Regions from separate parts of the Homo sapiens genome. Here region 1 is linked to region 2. Evidence: fine-mapped expression QTL. A gene starts in region 2. The other region holds a variant in brackets. All regions are shown on one strand. Distances are between the middles of the regions. Region 1 overlaps FA2H (fatty acid 2-hydroxylase). Region 2 holds the start of FA2H (fatty acid 2-hydroxylase).

The links. PIP is the estimated chance that this variant, and not a neighbour inherited with it, causes the effect.
Region 1: its variant is fine-mapped to the expression of FA2H in nasal epithelium (TOPMed, PIP 0.99).

What each region holds. Positions count from the first base shown.
Region 1 is chr16:74,711,642-74,714,544 of GRCh38, reverse strand. It overlaps FA2H (fatty acid 2-hydroxylase), which reads left to right. Exons shown (of 7, transcript NM_024306.5): 7 at 276-1,576. The coding sequence ends at 355. Among named protein-coding and RNA genes, the nearest start is that of MLKL, 12 kb to the right of the region's middle. The variant C/G (reference allele first, on the strand shown) is at 1,419.
Region 2 is chr16:74,773,432-74,776,334 of GRCh38, reverse strand. It overlaps FA2H (fatty acid 2-hydroxylase), which reads left to right and starts at 1,515. Exons shown (of 7, transcript NM_024306.5): 1 at 1,515-1,849. The coding sequence starts at 1,580. RefSeq lists silencers at 1,209-1,268, 1,279-1,408, 1,419-1,788, 1,829-1,878.

The DNA.
Region 1 (2,903 bases), 62 kb after region 2:
GGAGATGGAGGTGGGGGGTGGGAGGGGGCCACGTAGCCTAGAAACGAAGGCCAGATAAGGAATTAGGGTTTATTCCAGCTTCATGCTGGGGACAATAAAAGACACAGGTTCCCCACCCTTGACTTCTGCCAGAATGGCCTCGGGAGTTGGGAAGGCCAAGGGGACAGATATTGACATTGTCTCCACCTCTTATCCCTACCCTGGCACCCTTCCCAAGCCAGCGCACGCCTGCTCCTTCAATGCCTCATCTTCTCCCCGTTTGTCTCCCTCTCTAGGATTTGGTATCAGCACTAAATTGTGGGATTACTGTTTCCACACCCTCACTCCAGAGAAACCCCACCTGAAGACGCAGTGACAACTCCCACCCCCTCCGTCCTGCCCTCAGCCCGGCCCTGGCCCCTTCCCGACCCCCACCCGCCATTCAGACCCCATTAAGAAGGTTGGCTTGGCCAGGCAGGATGGGCTGTGTCCGGCCCTGCAGCCTAGTGGAAGGTGCTGAGGGGGCCCTGAGGCAGGACCGCCCTCCTGACCCCTGGTAGGAGGGTCACATCCACTTGGTGGCCAGGTGGCCCTTGGTGACCCACTTCTTCCTGGAGCGTCCCTGCCTAGAGCTCAGCCCACAGGACTGCTTCAGGCCGTGGCCACAGGTAGCAGCCGCAAGGGGAAATGAAGAAAACTGAGCCCTCGTGGCCACCTGTGTCACCCTTGTGCCTTAGCCTCATGGGCTGCCTAGGAGCTGCCTGCACGGCACAGCTCGCTTTCACAGTCAGAAGTGGGTCTGTGGGATCTGTGGTCCCTGTCCTCCCTGCTGTCCCTTCTGGGGAGGCTTTGGTGGCTCTGAGGTGGACAAAGAGCTCTCGCAAGAAGAGACAGCGTGATGCCTCCCACAGTCCACCCCAGACCCTGGGGCAGCCCCTCTGGCCCTGCCAGCTGCCTGCGTCGTTGGGCCCAGGGTGGCTGGCAGGAGTCCCAGCTGCTTGCTTTAGGACCTGGCAGCTTTTCTTGCCGTCCCTCCCCTGCCTCCAGAATCACAGCCCTTCTCCCCAAGGGAGGCTGAGGAGGCTTCTCCACCAGTGGCAGCCCCACCCCGTCCCTGGCCATTCTTGGCCTCCACCCCGCTCAGGCCCCTACTCGGGCGCTCCCAGAAGGAGCCACCTCTCAGTGCCTCACCTCCCCCTGCCTCCCAGCCTCCGCAGATGAGGTTCCTGCCCCTTCCTCCTCGTAACCAAAACCCTCACTGCTCCCAGGACGGTCTTATTTATAAACCAGATACATGTTCTTAGTCTGGTCCCAGACCAAGGAGCTGGTCAGACGGCCCTTTCTAATCCTACATGTTGAGCTTATGTAAAAAATGTTGTTTCCTCCTGTTTTTGGTTCCTTTCTTACCCACAAACCATTACTACTTGAAACTTAAAAAA[C/G]TCGCCAAGTGTAAAGGCTAAAGAGAAGCAGTTTGACGGACCTTGTGATTTGTACTGTTTGCTGCGGAGCTATTTAAAGATTTTGGAATAAATATACAAAACTACGGTTGTGAAATAAAAACTTAAATTGTATATTTTGAAAAATAAAACACTGAAAAGAAACCAACAAAAATGAGTTGTTCATCAGACTCCCTCGTGGTTGGGAAGGGGCAGTGGTGTGGGGAGGGATAGAGGGGCAGAGGATTGGTCCCCAGGGAGGGAGATTCTAGCCCTGACCAGGGTGGGTAGAATTGCTGGGGCATGGTGATGATTAAAAGCTGACCAACTCTCAGCTGGGCGCGATGGTGCATGCCTGTAATCCCAAGATTTTGGGAGGCCAAGGTGGGAGGATCGCTTGAGGCCAGATGTTCAAGACGAACCTGCCCAAAATAGCAAAACTCCATCTCTAAAAATAAAAGAAAACAAGACAAAAGAAAACAAAACAAAAGGAGAAAGCTGACTGACTCTTATTCTCTCACTCAGCTTTATTCTGTTTCTAAATTCTCTGCAGACAGCATCTCCTCTTATTGCCTGCACCTGGGATGCATTGTGCCCACAAACCACTTTGATCCGCCAATGGGGAGGGATCTCTTCTGGAGTTTATCTAACCCCAACTGAGCTTCCAGTCGACTTTCCTAAAACAGAGGGAGAAAGGCTCCAGCAACAAATGCCCATAGTGGGAACTAGAACCTCAAGCAGCTCAGTCTCGGTGAAACTGTTGCTTGTCTTTCTCTGCTGCCCTATCGGAACCACCTAGGAAGCTGTCGAAGTGCAGCTCCAGGGCCTCGCACTCAGGGTCTAGTTCAGTAGGTCCAGGGGGGTAGGCCCTGGACTCACCTGTCTGAGGACACGGAAGCGGAAGCAAGCTGATGTTGGGGAGCCTCGGAGGGAGCCCAGAACTCTGCTGTGTCTCCCTGCTCTGGCAGTCATAGGGGCAGCTTTATGCCTGCAGCTCCCAGCCCGAAGATAAGTAGGACCCGTCGGAGCCACCCATCACTCGAGTCCCTGAAGCCTGTCACCGGAACCCAGCCCGTCCAAGCAGCAGAACTCATAACCTTCATTTACTGATGGAGCTGAGCAGCTCACCCTAGACCATCACACCCAGGGGGAGGGAGGCAGAGGAAGAACACAGGAGGAGCTCCGCAAGTGTAAACACACATGGCCACAGCAGGAGAAAAAGCCTAAGGTGAGCAAGATTTAGCAAAAAAAAAAAAAAAATTGAAAATTTTCTTTAAGAAGAGTGAAACAGGCCGGGCGCAGTGGCTCACACCTGTAATCCTAGCATTTGGGAGGCCGAGGCAGGCGGATCACTTGAGGTCAGTAGTTCGAGACCAGCCTGCCCAACATGGTGAAACCCCATCTCTACTAAAAATGCAAAAATTAGCTGGGGGGCGTGGTGGCATGCACCTGTAATCCCAGCTACTCAGGAGGCTGAGGCAGGAGAAT
Region 2 (2,903 bases):
TTGGGAGGCTGCGGCGGGAGGATCACTAGAGGCCAGGAGTTCGAGACCAACCTGGCCAACATGGTGAAACCCCGTCTCTACTAAAAATACAAAAAAATTAGCCGGGCGTGGTGGCACGCGCCTATAGTCATAGCTACTCTGGAGGCTGAGGCAGGAGAATCGCTTGAACCCGGGAGGCGGAGGTAGCAGTGAGCTGAGATTGTGCCACTGCACTTCAGCCTGGGCAACAGAGTGAGACTCTGTCTCAAAAAAAAAAAAAAAAAGTGCACTATGGGAGGCCATGGCAGGCAAATCGCTTGAGCCCAGGAGTTTGAGACCATCCTGGGCAGCATGGTGAAACCTCGTCTCTACAAAAAATACAAAAATTAGCCAGGCGTAGTGGTGCATGCCTGTAGTGCCAGCTACTTGGGAGGCTGAGGTAAGAGGATTGCTTGAGCCCGGGAGGTCGAGGCTGCAGTGAACCAAGATCGCACCACTACTCTCCAGCCTGGGTGACAGAGTGAGACCTTGTCACGGGAAGGGAAGGGAAAGGAAGGGAAGGGGAGGGGAGGGGAGGGGAGGAGAGAAAAAGTAGATTCACCATTCGGTCCAGCAATCCCACCACTGGGTATCTACCCAAAGGAAAAGAGTCATTATATGAAAAAGACACTTGCACACGAATGTTTGTTTTTTGCAGCCCAATTCACAATCGAAAAGATATGGAACCAACTTAAATAACCATCAACCAATGAGTGGATAAAGAAAATGTAGTTGATATACACGATAGAATACTACTCAGCCATAAAAAGGAACGAAATGAAGTCTTTTGCAGCAACTTGCATGGAGCTGGAGGCCATTATTCTAAGTGAAAGTGATTCAGGAATGGAAAACCAAACACTGTATGTTCTCACTCATAAGTAGGAACTAAGCTATGAGGACGCAAAGGCATACAGAGTGATATAATGGACAATAGGGAGAATGGGAGGGGGTGTAACACACACACACACACAAAACCCTACACATTGGGTATAATGTACACTACTCGGGGGACAGGTGGACTAAAATCTCAGGACTTACCACTATACAATTCCTCCATGTAACCAAAAACCACTGGTACCCCAAAAGCTACTGAAATTTTAAAAACAAACAAATATTTGCACCCGAGGCGAGCACCTCATTCGCCTCTCGCTCTCTCGGGCACCTCCTGGAGCCAGAGGGTCCCATGCGGCCAGCTCCTCCGTGGAAGCAGTTGAAGTTATTCCAGCAGCGATCAGGCCACCGAGGATGTCCGCCCAGACAACCACCCGCGACGGGGAGACTCGCTCCGCCTGTGTCCGCCCACCCTCCTCCCGCGCGGGACACACCTGGCGGGCGCGGCACTCCCTGTCCGCGGCCACCTGGCGCGCAGCTCCCGGCGCCGGGCCCGCCCCTCGCGGCTCTGCCGGGGCTCCCGGCCGGCCAATGGGAGCGCGGTATGCAAATGAGCAGGTGCGGTGGCGGCCCGCCCGGAACGGCCGCGGGGCTCCCGGGATGTTAGAGGCGCTCAGGGTGGCAGCAGAGCAGACGCCGGGCTGCGCGCTGGGAGCTGCGGTCTCCGGCCATGGCCCCCGCTCCGCCCCCCGCCGCCTCCTTCTCGCCCTCCGAGGTCCAGCGGCGCCTGGCGGCCGGCGCGTGCTGGGTCCGCCGCGGGGCCCGCCTCTACGACCTCTCCAGCTTCGTGCGGCACCACCCGGGGGGCGAGCAGCTGCTGCGGGCCAGGGCGGGCCAGGACATCAGCGCCGACCTGGACGGGCCGCCGCACAGGCACTCGGCCAACGCGCGCCGCTGGCTGGAGCAGTACTACGTGGGAGAGCTCCGCGGGGAGCAGCAGGTACAGCCGGGCCGGGGCCCCCCACCCCAACCCAGGCCTCCGTCAGCCTTCCACTCCCGGGCGAGCCCCGTTCACTTGCCCTCTAGCAGGACCCAAGGTGACAGCTTCTGCCCTCCCTTCCCTCGCTTTCCCTCTCTTCTCTCCAGGCAACAGGTCACTGTCGTCCCCTCCAACCCCTCCTTCCTCTCTCCAGGAACTTGCTCTTCCTTTCCACCCTTACCGCCTGGCCCGCCTCCGTGCCAGCTCTCCCATTTCCCCAGCACCCCTCCTTCCAGCGTGTTCCTTCTGCAGCCCCTGCCCTCCGACAACCTGGATTCCCGTTTCTGTCCCCAGCCCCCCATACGCCTCGGCTTTCCTTCCTCTTCACTTATCGGCCTCTCCCTCTTTGCAACCACTCTCCGTTTCTGTTTGGATAATGGGCTCAACCTGTTCCCACCTCCCCATCCCACCTCACTTCTGCTTCAAAGAGGCACAGATCAGTAACTCTTCTCACTAGCTTGGGTTTCCTGGTGCCGCCCTGGCCTTGCCTGGGCCATGTCTGGGGTGGACTGTGTCCTCCAACCTCTCAGACCTTCCCTTATATTCTTGTCCTACACGCTGGCTTGGGACTCCAAAAGAGTGAAATGAAAGGCATGAGCCAGTTTTGCCAAGGAAAAGGGACCAGCACTTTGGACCAGACTGTGTGCTGAGCTGCACGCTTCTGTGCAGTACCAGCTCCCGATGGTATTTAAGTCCTTAACTCAACCTGGGGCAGGTTTTGTTATTCCCATTTCAGGATATGGAATCTGAGGCTCAGGGAGGCTCTGATTAATGCGCCTAAGGTCAAATAGCTAAATAGTGGGAAAGCCACATGTATCTGACTCCAAAATCAATGCTGGCTCCATCCCAAAAGTCTTCGGGTGGAGGAGACAGACCTAGTCCACAGGATTCCAGGTAGGCTCAGGCCAGAGGCAAAGCGACTCTCTTGATGTTCCCCAGGCCTGGCTCTGGGACTGGTATGGGGCCATCATGCTTAGATATACAGTAGTTCCCCCTTGTCCAAGGGGATACATTT